Homo sapiens: one gene and its partners. The protein of the gene in region 4 purifies or fractionates together with the protein of the main gene of each other region. This does not show direct contact. Each region holds a gene or a part of one and is shown on either strand. Other genes may lie near its edges.

Evidence for each region. The genes of interacting proteins can lie anywhere in the genome.
Region 1: the proteins of ZNF385C (region 4) and VANGL1 purify together in Homo sapiens (affinity purification with mass spectrometry, with the first as the bait; one large-scale study listed by BioGRID). This does not show direct contact.
Region 2: the proteins of ZNF385C (region 4) and CRYGD purify together in Homo sapiens (affinity purification with mass spectrometry, with the first as the bait; one large-scale study listed by BioGRID). This does not show direct contact.
Region 3: the proteins of ZNF385C (region 4) and LUC7L purify together in Homo sapiens (affinity purification with mass spectrometry, with the first as the bait; one large-scale study listed by BioGRID). This does not show direct contact.

Annotation. Positions count from the first base shown.
Region 1 is NC_000001.11:115,662,470-115,665,969, reverse strand, and holds part of VANGL1 (vang-like protein 1), read right to left. Parts: intron 2,310-3,500; coding exon 1,702-2,309; intron 1-1,701.
Region 2 is NC_000002.12:208,121,725-208,125,947, reverse strand, and holds the start of CRYGD (gamma-crystallin D), read left to right. Parts: upstream 1-1,423; 5' UTR 1,424-1,474; coding exon 1,475-1,483; intron 1,484-1,593; coding exon 1,594-1,836; intron 1,837-4,002; coding exon 4,003-4,223. UniProt on the Homo sapiens protein: Crystallins are the dominant structural components of the vertebrate eye lens.
Region 3 is NC_000016.10:222,950-226,449, forward strand, and holds part of LUC7L (putative RNA-binding protein Luc7-like 1), read right to left. Parts: intron 1-3,500. UniProt on the Homo sapiens protein: May bind to RNA via its Arg/Ser-rich domain.
Region 4 is NC_000017.11:42,091,974-42,095,473, forward strand, and holds part of ZNF385C (zinc finger protein 385C), read right to left. Parts: intron 1-3,500.

The DNA of each region.
Region 1 (3,500 bases), on a different chromosome or scaffold from region 4:
CCTGTTTCTGCACCTGTCCACCAGACAGCGGTGCACTGGTCTCTTTCCAAGTGACTGTGAGTGCCACAGGTGCTGAGATAGAGCTCTGAAGGCAGCCAGCCTGGTGTGTCCAGGGCTCTGCACACAGCAGATGTTTAACACAAAACTGCTGGTCATTCCCTGATGCAAAACATGGGAAAAGAAAGCCTTCTGAGATGAATATGCAGCAAAGCGGTGACCTACTTGTCTTCAGAGCCCTACAGGCATCTGTGAAGGACTCTAAACCCCAGATTTTTGGTGCACAGACATGTGACTTGGACACCAGTTTCCACCAAGGATCAGTTAGGGTGGCAGCAACCTTGAACGCTAGATCATCCCGTTCTCGTAGCACAAGCCAAGCCAGAGGAATGGAGGAGGGTACACACCAACATGAAGATGGTTTGGCAGCATGGCCTGACTCCAAATACAGGCTGAGCCACCTTCCTGGAGCCCAGCCAAATCTATGACAAAGCCGATTGTTCTGATACCCACTAAGGTGTGCCCTTGCTGATTCTGGCTGCTCTGCCAGCTACATGATCACAGCAGTAATAGCTGCAATGAACTAAGTGCCTACCCTGCCCCAAGCAGGCTACACACATCAGCATATACTGCCTAAGGAGGCAGAGAGCCTGGGAGAGGGTAAAGGCTTTGAAGTCAAATGTCCCAGGCTCTGCATTCACCCAGAGAACATCTCAGTGCAAGCCATGCTCCATGCCAGGCACTGAGGATGTAATGAGGTATAAGGGTGGCCCCTGGCCTCAGGGAGTTCATAGTCTGTGGAAGAAAACAGATGGAAAAATAGGCCACTAACCACAAAGTGAGAGATGCCATTATGGGGGCATTCACTCAGCCCTGGCCTCATGACATCTGAGTGAATCCTAAATGAGGCTAGCCATATGTTTTTGTGCAAATTACTTAAATCCCCTAAGCCCTAGTTTCTTCATCTGTGACACAGGGATTAATAATACCTAGGTCACGGGGTTCTATGAAGACTAAATACACAATCTATATATAAAGTGCTTACCTTGAAGCAAATAAAATGATGGTAATCACTCTTATTTAACCACAAAATAATGAGATTTTATGCAGAGATGTAAGTATGACAACCCAACTGACTTCTAACTTTTTCTCACGCATACATTTTCACAACACTCAAGGATTACACATTTGGAGTCTCTAACCTGCACTTGATTCTTTATTGGAGGGTCCCTCGGATGACCATATAATTTACTGCCCAAACCAGGCCTCTGAGAGTGGGAAAAAAGGAACAATTCATTATTCCACTGGGACAACATGGTAAACCAGATGTCACATTTGGGACAAAATGGAGCTGCTGGTCACTTTATCTGTTGTCCATTGGCCAATTTCAGAGTCAAAGAAGGCAGCCATCACTATGCATCTCCTTTCTCCATCATTTTTGGGAGCTGCCAATAACTTTGAGAACAAGCCCAGCAAAATCTCAACCTGGGTGAGAGCCAGCAACTGCCCCGCACCATCTAGAAGTCCAGAAACTCAATGAACATGGACACCCTCCCCACCCTCGCATCTCCTCCCCAAACCAGAAAAGAGTCAGACTCTGGTCCTAGCTCTTGGCATCTGTCACCACCCCTCACGTGCTACAGAGCAGCTGTCTCCCAGCAAGACATCAGCCATCCTTTCTGCCTCCTGGATGTTGCCTCTTACCTCAGGTGTCCCAGGCTGTAGAAGCGGGACTCGCCATCGGTGGAGCGGACCACCTGCAGCGTGAACATGGGCTGCAGCTGCCTGAGCTCCAGCAGGACGATGGCCAGGTAATGGATGAAGAGGAGGGCATCCACAAGGGAGACTGCATATTGCACAATGCCCTGGTAATTCCGGTCCCGAGAGTCCAAAATGCGGACCCCGTAAAAAAGCCAATAGGAAACCACAAAGAGAAAGATGAGGACCAACAAAAGGGCACGAAACACAAACACCCGTGGCATGTCAGCTCTCCGCTTGCGGAAAAAAAGTGCCCAGGTCCCTATGAGCAGAATGAGGAGTTTGAATGCCATGGAGATAAAGAGCCCCTCACAAATTGTGCCACAAGGCTCCAGCTCATCCCTCCACAGGATCGGAGGTAAAAGGATGAAGGCAATAGGGGTGAGGAAAACTAGAAGTCCAAGAAAAGAGGCGACGGTGAGGCCCAGGTAGCGTTTGCAATCCAGCCCCACGCTGTCCTCCATGTCCTTGCTGATCCTGGCAATGTCCTCTTGGGATATGCTGTGCTCCGAGGTGCCTGTGATGGCCGTGGTGGTCTCTCCCCAGTTGTCATCCTGGTGGGGAGAAGACAGTGAGGATGACATGACACAGGTCATTTGTAAAAGCTACAAAGGGCAGTGAACATGCAGGGCCCGCTGCATCTACCCAGCCCTATTCACAAAGGCTTCCAGAAAATGAAAGCTTAACTCTTTAAATATTAGAACTTCTTAACTCAAACGATTTTCATTGAAATTTTCAAAATGTATGAGGTATTTACCTTTTCAAACAGAGAAAACATAATGTGATCTTTCTGTCTGTTTGGCTGATTCATTGACATAACATTGATTATCATCCCCTGGGTTGAAAAGCCTTGAGCAGCTCTGAGGGCCTGGAGCTGTTTGCCCTGCAATGCGCAACCCAGGTATTAGACTAATCTTGTGAGAGCTCATCTATAGAGATAAACCTCCTGCATCTTCTTTCCAATTCACGCTGGGTTATAAAGGCTTACGAAGTCCAACTTTTGGAGGTGGGAGTATTACTACACCCTCTAGCAGCCCAGAAGAGCAAAGGGCGTAGCAAGGGAACTTACACCACTACACAAACCCAAGCTTACCTGTAGCTAGGACCCACATTTTAAAATCTCTTTATGGACTGGGGCGCGGTGGCTCACACCTGTAATCCCCGTACTTTGGAAGGCCGAGGCGGACGGATCAGGAGGTCAGGAGATCAAGAACATCCTGGCCAACATGGTGAAACCCCGTCTCTACTAAAAATACAAAAATTAGCAAGGCGTGGTGGCACATGCCTGTAATCCCAGCTACTCAGGAGGCTGAGGCAGGAGAATCGCTTGAACCCGGGAGTCGGAGGTTGCAGTGAGCTGAGATCGTGCCACTGTACTCCAGCCTGGGCTACAGAGTGAGACTCCGTCTCAAAAAAAAAAAAAAAAAATCTCCTTATGATGTTCACAAGATCCACTTAACAAGCATCAGTGTCAAGCACTCTTTAACAATATTTCTCATGGACCAAGCTAAGCAAATCCAGGAATCCGTGTATGGCCAGATTGGCTTAAAAATTCTTTCTAAAACATGTTTTCACGAGGAACTAAACATCAAGGGCATAGAAACAACCAGGATTATTAAAATGTTATCTTTTACTTTCTAGCTTCCTCTCTTTTTAAACTTCTAGGCCGTTGCTAGTTAAAGCAATTAGTCTATTCACTTAGCAAAACCCAGTTGATAGAATTTTAAAGGATTTTGTTGTTTAAA
Region 2 (4,223 bases), on a different chromosome or scaffold from region 4:
CAATTATTAGCCACTAGAGACTCTTAACTTCCTTGAGTTAGGATCCTTACCAATTTTTGAGCACCTACCATACGCCTGCTATATGTAGCAATGGGGATGAAGAAAACAATCAAAACAAAACAAAAGAAAAAGGTATTTCCCTACCACCGTAGAGCTCTATATAGAAAGAATACAAAAAAAAAAAAGCAGCCAGAAAATAAGAATTAAAATAATTTGTATTGCACATAGTTGGTGTTTAATTCATAAATACCACTTACAAAGATTTATGACTCAAAGACAAGACAAAGTACTTCCATGGGTTGACACAGGGCTGTAAGCAATTCTTTGAACATGAAAGAAGCTGGACACATAGGTCATATTCCACTCCAGTACTCTTCCCAGTCCATCAAACTGCTCTCTTCCAGGCCAATAAGTACTTTCTGAAGTCTTCCTCGAGTCCAACTTCTAGATTTTTATTCCTTCCTCTCCCTGCATCATTCCAGCCATAGCTCCCCTTTGTGTTCATGCAATTAATTTCGTCTGAGTCAAAGGCCTTGTGTACTCTCGCTCGTTCAGAGGGCAAAGGTGTATTCTAGATCCTACCAGAAATAAGTTTCTTAGGAATTTGGTTTTATTTTATAACAAGCTAAGAGATCATGTTTTTGTGTTTCAAACATATTACTTTTTCTAATTTCCTCAAACTTAGATATTTCCCTTTTTAGTTCTTTCTGAGATTAAGCATCTTAGAACTATTCTCTCTTTTGAATCACGGCACCACCTTTAGCTAAGAGAAAAACATCTAATTCTCAGCTACTTCCAGGCATAATTGCAACAAAATCAGACCCAATATTGAAGATTCACGTTTGCTGTGTGTTTTACCATAATAAAAGTTCGAAATTCTGTGAACTCTCTTAATAAAATGTTCCAATTTCTTACACCCTTTCATGATGACGTTCTCTTAAAGGACTAACTTGAAATTTTCAACATTCAGTTAAGCCCATTTCCTTCCTATTAACAATCAGTATTCAATATTGTGGCACGTAAGTAATACTGTAGTTCTGACAGATTAATTTATATTTGCCTTATTAAGAGTCGTTGCTTTTTTTGCTCCCCGACTTAAATTTTTTTTGTTTTTCCCCAATCTATACGAATAAAAGCGTGAACTATATGTGAAATAGCTGAAGCTCCACTTCCATTATAAATAGACAATGTCCCAAATTGCCGTTTTACAAACATTCTCAATAGCATCAGCCAGTGATAGCAATCCGAATACTCCAGAGAGAATGCGACCAAAACCCACAACAAGCCCCGTGGTCTAGCACAGCAAAGAGAAAAAAAGAGAACACGAAAATGCCCTTGCTCCCCTCCGGGGGCCCCTTTTGTGCGGTTCTTGCCAACGCAGCAGCCCTCCTGCTATATAGCCCGCCGCGCCGCAGCCCCACCCGCTCAGCGCCGCCGCCCCACCAGCTCAGCACCGCCGTGCGCCCAGCCAGCCATGGGGAAGGTGAGCCCAGCCTGCGCCCCGGGACCCCGGAGCTTCCTCCATCGCGGGGGCCAGAGACTGGGGCAGGAGCAGGCCTGTGAGACCTCGCCTTGTCCCGCCTTGCCTTGCAGATCACCCTCTACGAGGACCGGGGCTTCCAGGGCCGCCACTATGAATGCAGCAGCGACCACCCCAACCTGCAGCCCTACTTGAGCCGCTGCAACTCGGCGCGCGTGGACAGCGGCTGCTGGATGCTCTATGAGCAGCCCAACTACTCGGGCCTCCAGTACTTCCTGCGCCGCGGCGACTATGCCGACCACCAGCAGTGGATGGGCCTCAGCGACTCGGTCCGCTCCTGCCGCCTCATCCCCCACGTGAGTACATCCTCAAGTCAGGACCCAGGCCCTCAGGACACTCACTGGATGGTTTCAAGCAAAAGTTAAACATTAGAAGTAGTGATCAGTCACAATAACTGAGAGTGGACAAAAGATGAACTATAGTGGATTAAGTCAATAGAGTTTGCTCCCCACATAAGCAAAGTATTACCCAGACACCAGTTAATCACAATTAATCCACAAATATGTATTGAGTAGGAATGTGTCTCCTGCCCTAGGGGTTGTATAAGACTTAAGTCCTATTCTGGAATCATTTAGAATGGAGTTGTAGAAAAACCACTAATACCCAATAGAAGAATAAATGCTAGAGCGTACAGCAGTTACTGAGCAAACAGGGTAATTTCTTTTGAGACTTTTTCCCGTTTTTGCTCCTCTCTTGCATATTTTGGGTTTTCCCAACCTATATAAGTAAGACTTTCCTTCAAAGGAGAGCAACACACATATTTTACACATGTGTCCCTTTTATCCCATATGTGTGTTAGAACACTAAAGTTTATGCAAAATTCGTCCTTGGACTTACTGATGTTTCTTCCTCCATTTTTCTTCATTGCATTCACAAGTTATTGACTTAGAATTAATTGTTCTTTAATATATGAAGATATTTAACATTTTATATTTTAATATATTTTAAATATTTATATTTTAATATATTTAAAACACTTATATTTTGAATAGAAGGCTTATATATTTAACATATTTTATTTATGTCATTGATTTAAATGATGCATTATCATTTAATTCAATATATTAAATGATATATTTAATATATTTTAAATACTTATATTTAAAATACATATTTTTATATTTTAAATATATTTACATTAAATATATTTAATGAATATAATGTATTTAATAATATATTTATTTAATAAATATGTATTTAATATATTTATATAACTACATAAATTATATTATATTTTAAATATATTTAACATATTTTAAATATATTTTAATATATTTTTAATATATTTCATTTACATTATATGTGTGTATATATATATTTTTGTTGTTGTTGTTTTGTTTTTGTTTTTTGAAACAGAGTCTCACTCTGACGCCCAGGCTGGAGTGCAGTGGTGCAATCTCGGCTCACTGCAACCTCCGCCTCCTGGATTCAAATGATTCTCGTCTCTCAGTCTCCTGAGTAGCTGGAGTTACAGGAGCACGCCACCACACCCAGCTAATTTTTGTATTTTTATTTTTATTTTATTTTATTTTATTATTTATTATTATTATTTTTTTTGACGAAGTCTTGCTCTGTTCCCCACGCTGGAGTGCAGTGGCATGATCTCGGCACACTGCAACCTCTGCTTCCTGGGCCCTAGCAATTTTCTTCCCAAGTAGCTGGGATTACAGGCACCCGCCACCACACCTGGCTAATTTTTGTATTTTTAGTATAGACAAGGTTTCGCCATATTCGTCAGGCTGGTCTTGAACTCCTGACCTCAAGTGATCCACCTGCCTCGGCTTCCCAGGGTGCTGGGACTACAGGCATGAGCCACTGCCCCACCCCTTATATTTCTGTATTTTAAATATATTTTATTTATATTTTAGTAAAGTTATTTTAAAATAAAATATAATTTGTAAAATAAATATAATTTTAATTTATACTTATAAAATATAATTTGAATATAATTATTAAAATAAAATATGATTAACTTTAAATAAAATATAATTTTATACATTTTATAATATATTTTAAATATAGTATATAATTAAATATGTATTAGATATCATATGTATATTAAAATTATACATTATTTAAATATATTTCTTTATAATTTAATGTTTATTTTAATATTAAAACATTTCTTCAAAATGGTATAAAATAGTAATAAGCTGTTACAGGTTTGGATTTGCATGTGGTACAGGATACTGAGCCTAGGAGGCAGCTCATCCTAAGAAATAGCTGAATATATTAAAGAGTGAGATTTCCTTCTCAATTTCTTCACCACACTTCATAATCTTGAAAAGGTACTGAATCTCTGTGCTCGGTAATGAGGAGTTTATAAATATTCAGAATTAATTAAATTTTACCATGTATTTCAAAATGGCTTGAGCGGGTCCTCACCAAGCTGGACTGCCTAACAATGCATTGGAATCATTTCACACTTGCTTTTCTTCTCTTTTTATTTCTGGGTCCGCCAGTCTGGCTCTCACAGGATCAGACTCTATGAGAGAGAGGACTACAGAGGCCAGATGATAGAGTTCACTGAGGACTGCTCCTGTCTTCAGGACCGCTTCCGCTTCAATGAAATCCACTCCCTCAACGTGCTGGAGGGCTCCTGGGTCCTCTACGAGCTGTCCAACTACCGAGGACGGCAGTACCTGCTGATGCCAGGGGACTATAGGCGCTACCAGGACTGGGG
Region 3 (3,500 bases), on a different chromosome or scaffold from region 4:
TTAAAAAAAAAAAAAAAAAAAGAAAGGAAGGCTTTAAACCTTTAATCCATCTTGAGGGGGAAAAAAATAGAGAGGCTTGCATGTCTGACTCTTGGGATGCAGTCTCATAGAAAGCATGTAGCATGCTAGGCTGGGCACGGTGGCTCACTCCTGTAATCCCAGCACTTTGGGAGGCCGAGGCGGGCGGATCACGAGGTCAGGAGATCAAGACCATCCTGGCCAACACAGTGAAACCCCTTCTCTACTAAAAATACAAAAAAAATTAGCTGGGCGCCTGTAGTCCCAGCTACTCAGGAGGCTGAGGAAGGAGAATGGCATGAACCAGAGAGGCAGAGCTTGCAGTGAGTCAAGATCGCACCACTGCACTCCAGCCTGAGCGACAGAGCGAGACTCCGTCTCAAAAAAATAAAATAAAATAAAATAATAGATAAAAAAAGAAAGCACGTGGCATACTCACTAACAAAACATCCTTCAGTATCACCAATAATAAAGCTAACATGGAGGCGGCAGACAACGGGTCTGCCTTGTATGGTGATGTTTATTTTGACGAAAGATTGACTTTTCTCCTTTATCATTCTTACTCTGAAGTCAGATGGGACTCACGTTATGGTCGGTTACATAGAAGACTTAGAGATAGGACAATAGTGGTTCTAGAAGCCAAATTTGCACTTAAAATCACTGTCACTGAAAATCTGACAACTTTTACCTCATTCACTCTGTTTTTTCTTTTTTTTTTTTGAGGCGGAGTCTCACTCTGTCGCCCAGGCTGGAGTGCAGTGGCACGATCTCAGCTCACTGCAACCTCTGCCTCCCAGATTCAAGTAATCCTCCTGCCTCAGCCTCCCGAATAGCTGGGACTACAGGGGCACGCCACCACGCCCGGCTAATATTTTTGTATTTTTAGTAGAGACAGGTTTTCATCATGTTGGCCAGGCTGGTCTCAAACTCCTGACCTCAAGTGATCCACCCGCCTCCTCCTCCTCCTCCCGAAGTGCTGGGATTACAGGTATGAGCCACCGCACCTGGCCTCATTCACTCTTCTAAGTTGTGGGTGTTGTCCTTTAAAATATATAGTTTCCACAAACTAAGCATTGTAGCTGAAAAATGAATGGCAGCTATCAGAAAAAATGCTTTAAACTAATCAAGGCTTTGTTGTTCAAAGAAAAAGCTACTACCAAAGGAAGCAGACCCTAAAACCTGAAGTACAACAAAGTATGAAGTACAAATTGATTTCCATTATAAAAAACTCAACTGTCAAGAAAGATATGACATTAGAAAACCTCATGAGGCCGAGCGCGGTGGCTCATGCCTATAATCCCAGCACTTTGGGAGGCCGAGGAGGGCGGATCACCTTAGGTCAGAAGTTCGTGACCAGCCTGGCCAACGTGGTGAAACCCCGTCTCTACTAAAAATACAAAAATTAGCCGGGTGTGGTAGCGCACGTTTGTAATCCCAGCTACTCGGGAGGCTGAGGCAGGAGAATTGCTTGAGCCCGGGAGGCGGAGCTTGCAGTGAGCTGAGATGGAGCCATTACATTCCAGCCTGGGCAACAAGAGCGAAACTCAGTCTCAAAATAAAAAAAAAAGAAAACCTCATGAGGCCAGGCGCGGTGGCTCATGCCTGTAATCCCAGCACTTTGGGAGGCAGAGGTGGGTGGATCACCTGAAGTCAGGAGTTTGAGACCAGCCTGGCCAACATGATGAAACCCCATCTCTACTAAAAATACAAAAAAAATTAGCCAGGTGTGGTGGCGGGCGCCTATAATCCCAGCTACTCAGGAGGCTGAGGCAGGAGAGTTGCTTGAACCCAGGAGACAGAGGTTGCAGTGAGCAGAGATAGCACCATGCACTCCAGCCTAGGCAACAGAGTGAGACTCCGTCTGAAAAAAAAAAACCTCACATGAAGCAAAATTCAGCACTTACTTTTCAATGTGAGAGCTCCCAAAAGAGTCCCTGCTTAAGCACACTGAGGATAGGCTTGGGTTCTATGATTACCCTCTTTGGATGTAGCTTTTCAGCTTTGCCAAGGAGGCAGGGAAAAATACTACTGGCCATTCCCCTGGATGCCCAACATCAAGCAGAGCTGAAATATCACATTCATTAAGTCCTTCCACAATATTCCACATGGCTGCTAAATCCAGTGTGTCAGGCGTTTTTTACTCCACAACCTGTGTTCTCTTCTGTACCTTCTACTGGTCTAACACTACTGACCAGGAAGGGCACCAAAGTTTCCGGAACCTTCAGAAAACACAGTTCTGGCCGGGCGCAGTGTCTCATGCCTGTAATCTCAGCACTTTGGGAGGCCAAGGTGGGTGGATCACGAGGTCAGGAGCTCCAGACTAGCCTGGTCAACATGGTGAAACCCCGTCTCTACTGAAAATACAAAAGTTAGCCGGGCGAGGTGGTGCATGCCTGTAATCCCAGCTACTCGGGAGGCTGAGGCAAGAGAATGGCTTGAACCTGGGAGGCAGAGGTTGCGGTGAGCCACGATCACATCACTGCACTCCAGCCTGGGCAACAAGAGCGAAACTCCGTCTCTTTTTTTTTTTTTTTTTGAGACAGAGTTTTGCTCTTGTTGCCCAGGCTGGAGTGCAATGGCTCGATCTCGGCTCACCACAACCTCTGCCTCGCGGGTTCAAGTGACTCTCCTGCCTCAGTCTCCTGAGTAGCTGGGATTACAGGCATGCGCCACCACACCCAGCTAATTTTGTATTTTAATAGAGACAGGGTTTATCTATGTTGATCAGGCTGGTCGCCAACTCCCAACCTCAGGTGATCCACCCGCCTCGGCCTCCCAAAGTACTGGGATTACAGGCGTGAGCCACCGCACCCAGCCTGAAATTCTGTCTCAAAAAAAAAAAGAAAAGAAAAGAAAAGAAAAGAAATACTCTCACTCAGATTATTTTTCTCACCAGTATTCTGCAGCTATGCTACACAGGGTCTGGCCAAGGAAAACATGGTTGAAATCTTCCCGAGAGTGCACATCTATCTGCTCCCTCTGACTTCCTTCACTATGGGTTTATCAAGAATTCCAAGTTGTGCATCCTATGAAAATACCCTACAGTGAAACTTCCTTTGACGAGTTGAAATCATTAATCTGTATTGACCTCGGTACACACAACAATCTGCATCAAACAGTAACGTTTTCCCATCCCAGGCCAAACAGCAGACAACACCCCAAGGAACAGAGGCACAAGGTTTGGCATTCATTTCGCATTTGCTGTCAGAAAACTCAGCTTGAGAAGTTTTAATACATCTGAGCGGTTTTCCAGAAGGTGCTCCTCCCTAATATAAGCAATGATTCATCATGAAGAAAACTTCCTTTAACATATGCACATTTCATCCTTAAAATGAGAGGATAGTTTTTAACCTCCGTGAGGTAGCTGTGAAACCTTAAAATGGGGGTGGTCTCTACAGGACTCCTTTTCTCTCAGTGGCGTAATCACCACAGATAACCTTCCACTATTCAGTCTTTTCAAATTCTTACTTCGAATAAATGCA
Region 4 (3,500 bases):
AGCTCCAGCATGGTCTGGCAAGGAGCCCTGGCTGTGAGGGGTGAGGAGACCCAGGTTCCAGTCCAGGTTCTGCTAGAAGATTGATTCTGCGAAAGTTCCTTTGCTCTCTGAGCTTTCATCATCTACAAAAAGAACTTTGATCTTAGCCAGGCCCAGAGGTTCATGACGGTAATCTTAGCACTTTGGGAGGCCGAGGTGGGTGGATCACCTGAGCTCAGGAGTTCGAGACCAGCCAGGACAACATGGCAAAACCCTGTCTCTACTAAAAATACAAAAAATTAGCTGGGCATGGTGGCATGTGCCTGTAATCCCAGCTACTCAGGAGGCTGAGGCACGAGAATCTTGTGAACCTGGGAGGGGGAGGTTGCAGTGAGCTGAGACTGCACCACTGCACTCCAGCTTGGGCAACAGAGCAAGCGAGATTCGTGTCAAAAAAAAAAAAGAATTTTGATCTCTGCAGGTGCTCATAGGATGGGATGAGGCAGTTCTGTATACTGCAAAGTTCTGTACAAAATCAGGGGATAGGAGGCCCTTTGGGGTCCTAGGGAGATTGTTCTGGAGATGGATTCTTACAGGGGCCCCGAGCCCATCAGAGAATTATTCCTCTGCTAAAGTCTCACTGGAGGACTGGCTCAAGCCTCTGCCAACAGGGAGAGTGGGCAGGCTTCTCCCACATTCCAAAGACCACACCCCATGTGTCCCTCTTTAGGAACCCCTAGAAAACCCAAGGGTTCCTGTTCCCAGTGCCTTTTCCTGGCATTTCCTCTCCTCTCAGCAGGGAGTGGGGGAGTGTCCCATCCCCATCCTGCCCTCCAGGGCCAGAGCACTCAACTTTGGGGCTGGGGAGGGGGTCAGCTGGCATCAGATGCGGGACTGAACAGAGCTGAGATCAGAAGGGTAGAGAAGTCTGGGGCTTGGGATGTAGGAGAGACATCTGGGAGCGGGGGGCGGGGGTCCGGGGAAGGCTGGACAGGGCAGGGGGCAAGGCCAAAGCTGGGTCTGGCCTCTAGCCTGGGCATCTAAAGTGAGAAGAAGGACCTGTGGAGTCAGTCCTTGCCCCACCCAAGGAAATCTTAATCCAATAAACAAACAGCCAACACAGCCGCTCCTGTGCAAGAAGCCGTGGGAGCGATGGGGAGGCCACAGAGGTGGGGAGGCCAGGAGAGGGCAGGGAGGCTGTTTAAACAGGCCCCTCGGCCTGGGGCAGTTGGCAGAAATATTTGGAACAGGGTGGGGAGCACAGCTGTGGTTTGGAGCAGGAAGCTGGGGCCCGGGGTGGGTGGGCTGAGCTTGACTGCTTCCAGGAGAAAGAAAAGTGTCAATTCAGCCCCACTCTGGTCAACGCCTCTTCTGAGGGAGACTCCAAGTCCCAACACCCTTCCCTCAGTTCAAGGTCAATCAGGTCAACCAGACAGACAAGGGGCTCTATCCCTTATCTCCCAGAGTGATGACTCTGGACCCCCAGCCCTGCTCCCAGGCCTATGACCCTGGGCCTCATCACTGAAGAAAGTTTCAGAGTTCAGAGCCGAAACCCCGGAGTTCTCAACAGAGGAGTTAGAGGAGATGAGCCATCAGCTCTTTATTTTTTTTACTTTTTATTTTATTTTATTTATTTTTTTTTTTTTGAGAGAGGGTCTCACTCTGTCGTCCAGGCTGGAGTGCAGTGGCACGATGTTGGCTCACTGCAACCTGTACCTCCCAGGCTCAGGCAAATCTCCTGCTTCAGTCTCCCGAGTACCTGGGATTAAAGGTACCCATCACCAAGCCCGGCTAATTTTTTGTACTTTTTTAGCAGAGACGAGGTTTCACCATGTTGGCCAGGCTGATCTCTAACTCCTTGACCTCAAGCAATCCACCCACCTTGGCCTCCCAAAGTGCTGGGATTACAGGTGTGAGCCACTGCACTCGGCCCATCCACTCTCCCTAGGACGTGATATTCCCTTTCCTGCCGCCTTGCCTGGCAGTGGAGGAGCCCAGAAGTGATCGTGGCCCCCTGGGAGGCATTATCACCTTTTTTTTTTTTTTTTGAGATGGAGTTTCACATTTGTTGCCCAGGCTGGAGTGCAATGGCGCAATCTTGGCTTTCTGCAACCTCTGCCTCCCAGGTACAAACGATTCTCCCACCTCAATCTCCCAAGTAGCTGAGATTACAGGCATGCGCCACCGCGCCCAGCTAATTTTGTATTTTTAGTAGAGACGGGGGTTCACCATGTTGGCCAGGCTGGTTTCGAACTTCTGACCTCAGGTGATCCACCCGCCTCAGCCTCCCAAAGTGCTAGTATTACAGGCGTGAGCCACCGTGCCTGGCTGTCACCTTCTTTCAGGACTCTTGGCTCTCCTTTTGCCGAGACTCCTCAAGAGACTAAGGCAGAGAGTCAGAGGGATACATGTCCAGACTGACAGGCAGATATAGAGAGAGGTGAAGATACAGAAAGACCCACCCAGAGAGATAGCCACGCAGTCAGACACTGAGAGTGGGAGTGTGAGAGAGAGGGACAGAGAGAGAAGGGGTAGACAGAGGAGGCAGAGAAAAAGGAAGAAGAAAAGACATAGAAAGACTCACAGAAAAAAGAGCTAGACGGGTGGAGAGGAGAGACAGAGATAACAAAGGACAGGGTCAGGAGAGGGGAAAGGACACAGATGGGGAGCACACAGGAGGCGCAGGGCCAGACACACTCACAGGCCGAAGCAGAAAGAGGCTCACGAGAACTACACAAGGACAGACAGCCTCAGGACCCAGAGACACTCTCCTGGGAGACGTGGGGGGAGCCAAAGTGCTTGGGGGTCGAGCCCCACTGGGGGTGGCCTCACCAGGGCAATGCTGCTGCCTCCTGTCCCAAAAGCTTAACCAACCGCTGCCGGCATCTGGCCCCCAGCCACCCTCTAGTAAGCCAGCCCTTGGCCACTGGAGCCAGTGGGTCACCCAAGGTGAATGAAAAGTCACCAATAAGGGACAGTGAGAGTGTGACTGGGGTGAAGGTATGGGTGTCACAAGCCATGTGTGTCAGGGTGGGTCTGACCTGGGGTGGGGTTTAGGAGCGCACAACCCTATACACAGACCTCTGGGGGTTAGTGCAGGCGGGCATGCGTACCTGAGTGAGTTTGTGAGTGTCTGTACACGTGTGTGGATCCAGTTCCATTAAGAGCCTCACGATGCTAATGAGGCCAACGTGGCAGGCTGTTCCTCAAATAGCCCAATCAGAAACAATGAGTGAGCAGAGACAGCCACAATAAAGGTTTCATGCCTCTTCTGAACAGACGGTGTGTCCAGGTGCCACAGGGCACTTGACTACAGTCAACACCAGCGTACCATTCATTCCCGCTGGGGATGACCCCCGCCGCCTGGCCAGCTGACCCCACAGTCTCCCCTGTCCCAAGCCCAAACTCCAAACTCATGGGAGAACCCACATGATAGACACATGGGCCCTCCCGGGTGGCAGGCGCAGCTCCCTCTGAGAAGGGCAGCCAGAGGGATGGTGGGGTCCAACCCTGGCTTTCCC